Regions from separate parts of the Homo sapiens genome. Here region 2 is linked to region 1. The links come from fine-mapping of genetic effects on gene expression. Tissue or cell type: whole blood. Region 1 holds a variant in brackets; the other region holds the start of a gene. All regions are shown on one strand. Distances are from middle to middle.

Evidence for each region. PIP is the estimated chance that this variant, and not a neighbour inherited with it, causes the effect.
Region 2: it holds the start of GDE1, and the variant in region 1 is fine-mapped to the expression of GDE1 in whole blood (INTERVAL, PIP 0.99).

Annotation. Positions count from the first base shown.
Region 1 is chr16:19,497,218-19,499,978 of GRCh38, reverse strand. It overlaps TMC5 (transmembrane channel like 5), which reads right to left. Exons shown (of 22, transcript NM_001261841.2): 22 at 866-2,059. The coding sequence ends at 2,013. It also overlaps the pseudogene RNU4-46P. Among named protein-coding and RNA genes, the nearest start is that of TMC5-AS1, 11 kb to the right of the region's middle. The variant G/A (reference allele first, on the strand shown) is at 1,169.
Region 2 is chr16:19,520,924-19,523,684 of GRCh38, reverse strand. GDE1 (glycerophosphodiester phosphodiesterase 1) reads left to right here and starts at 1,587. Exons shown (of 6, transcript NM_016641.4): 1 at 1,587-1,981. The coding sequence starts at 1,721. RefSeq lists a silencer at 1,626-1,795 and enhancers at 1,906-2,075, 1,386-2,120, 2,246-2,305.

The DNA.
Region 1 (2,761 bases):
AACCCAGGAGGGGGAGGTTGCAGTGAGCTGAGATTGTACCACTGCACTCCAGCCTGGGAGACAGAGGGAGGCTCCAACTCCATCTCAAAAAAAAGCAAAGAAAAAAGCACAAACAGCACTAAGATGACCCCAAGGGGAATAAAATCACTTCCAACATCACTTCCATGGGTTGCCTGCACTGACCCCACAGACAAGTCTCCCTTAGTCCCTGTGCTTCTTCAGAGCATCTACTACAACTGTAATTAATTATTGCTTAAGAATTAAATTCATGTCTAAACCTGCTAGACAGGCAGCACCATGAATTGTTCACCATCTTGCTCACCACTATTTGGTCCATATTTGTTGAATGAATGGATGGATGAACACTACATACAACTGTTACCAAAGATGACACCAAAAGAAATTAATTCCTCCGATGAAGTGAATTAATGAAAAAAATAAGTGAATGAAAAAGTGCGTGGTCAAGTGCAGTGGCGTGTGCCTGTAGTCCCAGCTACTTGGCAGGCTGAAGTGGGAGGACTGCTTGACCTAGGAGTTTGAGTCAAAGCTGGCAACACAGCCCAGCCTTATCTCTTAAAAATAAAAAAAAAAGGGAATAAATGACAGCACTGGTTGGGTGCTTGTGTTTCGAATGTATCTTAACTGCTTTCTAAATTCAGTTCCAATTAGGTTTTATGCGAGTGATTACTTAAGAGGAGGCTCCTCTCTCCTGAGTAACTGCACCTTTCTGCTGGACCTTTCAGTGTTAAGAACAGCCACGTGGCTTGTGAATCATTTGGCAAACCTGCAAAAACATTATACACACACGTATTCATTACATATGTGCACACACACACACATTCCACACATCACCACCAGTTTCATATTTGGTTTGAATAAGACTTTTAATTTACTTTATTTATTTATTTATTTATTTTTTTGAGGCAGAGTCTCACTGTTGCCCAGGCTGGAATGCAGTGGTACAATCTCGCCTCACTGCAACCTCTGCCTCCCAGGTTCAAGCAATTCTCCTGCCTCAGCCTCCCGAGTAGCTGGGATTATAGGCATGTACCACCACGCCCAGCTAGTTTTTTTATTTTTAGTAGAGACGGGGTTTCACCATGTTGGCCAGGCTGGTCTTGAACTCCTGACATTAAGTGATCCGCTTGCCTCAGCCTCCCAAAGTGCC[G/A]GGATTACAGGCATAAGCCATCGCACCCAGCTAATTTCTTTTCTTTTCTTTTTTCTTATTCAGTCTCCGTAGAGACTGTCAAAAATTGCCAGCGCTGATTATATTTCAAGTCATCACGGTGGGGTATTGGGAAAATTTCCAATTAGCAATAATCGCGTCTCGGATAAATCTCATTGGCTACGGTACTGCCACTGCAAAGCTAGCTTGACGTAGGACTTTGATGGTCATGTATAACACCTCACAGGGGCAGAACCTCCTCCATCCCCGACTCCAAAGACTCATGTAATCAGTACGCAAGAAAGTTCAGAGATGAGACCTCTGGTTGTATTCCACCTTTGGGACATGGGGGATGTCTTTAGTTCAAAGTCACAAATAAATGCAGGTTCTACAATTCAGAGGCTTCATATCCCTGCTGGAGTATTACATGTTTATTCAGGATGGACCACTTTTCTTAGCAACAGTTTCTAAACCTTTGCCAGGTCTGGGAAGTCTGGCAGGAGAGATTTCTAAGAACCAATCATTCCTGCACACACTTCTTGAAGATAATATACATTATTCCCTAGTTATCTCTTCCTAGGTTTTTGTAGGCTCATTTCAATATTACAACAATCTTTATTGGAAAACCCCAAGTATTTTGTCTTGAAAAATCAGCAATCCAGGTATTAAAAATAGCATGGAATGCCCAATTTTACTTTGATAATTACATGGTAGTCAGTTTCCGCTCCTGGCTAAAGCCTTGGATTTTCTTCTGGGCAGTTCCTAAAGGCACAGGTGGCATGGAAGAAATCATTCCATTTTCGTCTCCTCCCCTTATTTGATTGGTGTCTGGTTACCAAAAGAGTCATCAGGCCCTTGGATTACCTTCTTGAACTGATCTTCTAGATCGCAAGTCTAGGTTTGACACAGGAAAGAGAAGTTAACGCAGGCACACTCTGCCCCATCTCTACAAGGGAAAGACCAGCTTGCCTTCAAGATTCCATAGCTTCTCATGCCTTCTTTGCCTCTTCCTTTTAGTTTCTATAATCCTTCCCTTGAACTCCCATCACTGGAAGTCATCAGTAAATGCTATCCCCCAAAAATAAATGGGTTTGCTTGTTTGTTTCCTGCCCAGAATTCGCTCTCCTGGCATCAGCCCCAGATTTTCTTTAGGAAGTCACCCTTCCCTACTCTTGGTCCCTATGGTCTTCATGGTTGCACCACCTGCATCTACAGATGAAATCATGTGATCAAGGGAACTGCCACATTTTTGCACCCACAACAATTGGTTCATAGACGGGGACATCACCCAGTCAGATCCTATGAAACACCGTGAGAATCCTGGGTCCCTCAGTCTTTCCCACCAGACTGACTCTGAGAAGATATAAGAAGTTGATAAAGCTGTCTTGCACTTATTAGGCAGAGTCTATTGCAAAAGGAACTAACATGGGTAAGAACGGAACTGAAAGAAACCGGGTTCTGGTGACACTGTGAGTTCCTGCGTTAGGCAAGGCCTAAAGCAAGAATTATTCTTGGAATTTTGTTTAAGCCAGTTTGGATCCAATTTGCAACTGAAAAAGTAATGGACACATGAGCAATTCTTACACTTGTCTTAGG
Region 2 (2,761 bases), 24 kb before region 1:
CCCTCAGGGTCTGAAGCCCCCTGAAGTGTTCCTTGAAGTTGCCATTTTTTTCTTATCTGTATAAAGATAACCCCTTTCTATGCAGCCGTTAGAAAACATGTAACATTCACCAAAATATTTTCTTGTAGGTAAAAACTTGCTGAACCCACCGGGCGTGATGGCTTACGCCTATAATTCCAACATTTTGGAAGCCGAGGCGGAAGGATCGCTTGAGCCCAGGAGTTCGAGATCAGCCTGGGCAACAAAGGGAGACGGCATCTCTACAAAAATTTTAAACGTTAGCCGGGTGGGGTGGCGCGAGCCTGTGATCCCAGCTACTCGGGAGGCTGAGGTCGGAAGATCGCTTGAGCCCAGGAGGTCGACGTTGCAGTGAGCCATGATTGCACCACTGCATTCCAACCTGGGCGATAGAGTGAGACTGTCTGAAAGAAAAAAAAAAAAAGGCTGAATCCTAGATGCCAACTGGAAGGCTTAAGACATCTATCCCCTTTTGCAAATCAGTGGGAAAATGCACTAAAGGAAAAAAAGGTAACAGAAAAATCCCTGAATATTTTTGCAAAGTTCTCTACATAAAAATGTTACCAGCCCTCCAAAATATGTCCAGGGGCCCCTTTTCACTCCCTAACTCGGCTTCATGGTCTATCTCTCTTACCCTCCTTCCAGTGCCTGTTTTTGCATATGTAAAATGGGGGTTTTAAAAGTGCCTATCACAAGGGTGGTTGTGAGGCACAGTTGAGGTAACTCCTGTACAGTGCCTGGTACAAAAGCCCTTAGCAGAAGTAAGATTAGGGGGAGGAGGAGTGAAAATGTCACAAATCACTGGGGAGGCCTTTATGTCAGTCCCCACCCTGCCATTAACTGCTTAATTCACCTATCCTCAGTTTCCGCATCTATGAAATAAGGGAATCCTTAAAACCCCTTCCAGTTTTATAATCCGATTGTGCCTTCTTTGCTAGGCTCTTCCAGTCCCCCAGAATCTGGAAAATAAAGTCGATTGAAATCAGTCTCCTGATAGTAACTGTTAGGCTGTATTGAGAATGAGATAAGCATATAAAGTGTTTGCTCGTCAAGTACCTGGGACATGGTAAGTGCTCTGTAAACGTTAGGTGTACTTGCTAACTTTTATTTCCTCCCACAAGAATGTGAATCCCATAAGAGCAAAAACCCTGTAGGTCCTGTTCAACTGTGTCCGGAGCACCTGGACCGGTATTTGGCACATCTTGAATTGAACTGAACTGAACTGAATTGAATTGAATTGAATTGATAGTCTAAGCATCCTGCCTCTCCAGGTTCCCTGGAATTCAGTTTCCTCAAGGGCAGATAAAGGAGTCACTAAAATCCCTTCCAGTCCTACAGCTTTAGGATGGTTCTTATCCCTCCTTTTCTCGCCTAGGAGTCTGAACGCCCAGGTTGAAGTTCAGACCTCGGAAAACCCTAACCCACCTTAGATTTGGAACGTGAGCCTGGGGCCTGGGGCCTGGGCCCTCCCCCGTTGCCATGGAGCGGCTCCGCCCACTGGCGCTGCGAATCCCGATCCCTGATTGGCTGGGCGGCCGACTCCCTCTCTGGATGTGTCTGCTGCCGCCATTGTGCGGCGCTGGTCCCCTCAGAGGGTTCCTGCTGCTGCCGGTGCCTTGGACCCTCCCCCTCGCTTCTCGTTCTACTGCCCCAGGAGCCCGGCGGGTCCGGGACTCCCGTCCGTGCCGGTGCGGGCGCCGGCATGTGGCTGTGGGAGGACCAGGGCGGCCTCCTGGGCCCTTTCTCCTTCCTGCTGCTAGTGCTGCTGCTGGTGACGCGGAGCCCGGTCAATGCCTGCCTCCTCACCGGCAGCCTCTTCGTTCTACTGCGCGTCTTCAGCTTTGAGCCGGTGCCCTCTTGCAGGGCCCTGCAGGTGCTCAAGCCCCGGGACCGCATTTCTGCCATCGCCCACCGTGGCGGCAGCCACGACGCGCCCGAGAACACGCTGGCGGCCATTCGGCAGGTGAGACCCCCACGTTCGCGCCCCTCGGTCCTCCCGAGAGCTCGGACTTCTACTTTTCCTTCCCAGGGTTCCCCGATCTTCTCAGGACGGCCTTCCCACTTCCTCATTCGTCCACAAGGCACACTCCCGGCCCTTGATCGCTCCCAGTGTCTAGGGATCTCCGGACTTGAGGTTTTATATTTACAGAAGACAGCAGATATGTATATAGTTTCTGTGCGCCTGACGCTAAGGTTACATACAGCCAGGAACAAGGTCAAAAGTGTCCCTGGTTTACAGAGTGTACATCGGAATGGGGGAGGCAAGCCTTAAACAAGTAAACACATAAATGAGATAACTTTAAGAGAGTGAAAGGTGCAATGAAGAAATCGGGGGAACTCGAAGGAAAGAGTTACGCTATTTTATTTAGATGGAATAGTCAAGAGAAATCGTCTCCGAAGAAGCAACATTTGAACAGAAACCGGAATTATAAGGAGCCAGGCAGGTGCAGAAGGTCCTGAGATGGGAATAATATAGGGGTGTTCAGGTAACAGAAGAGGCAGTGTGTGGCCTGACTTCAAGGAAGAGAACAAAGACTGGTGTGTGAATGAAGTAGAAAATGGGTCAGGTCAAATAGGTTCTTGGTCAGTAATTGAGGTTAGTCTAAATAGATCACCCTTCACAAGACATACGTTTGCTTGTCTTGTAAATCACTTGAGTCATTTCCTTATCACCTTTTCCCCAGACACACACATTCGCACTCGCACAACCCTGGCAGCTGGACTCACATCAGTTTCTGCCCCC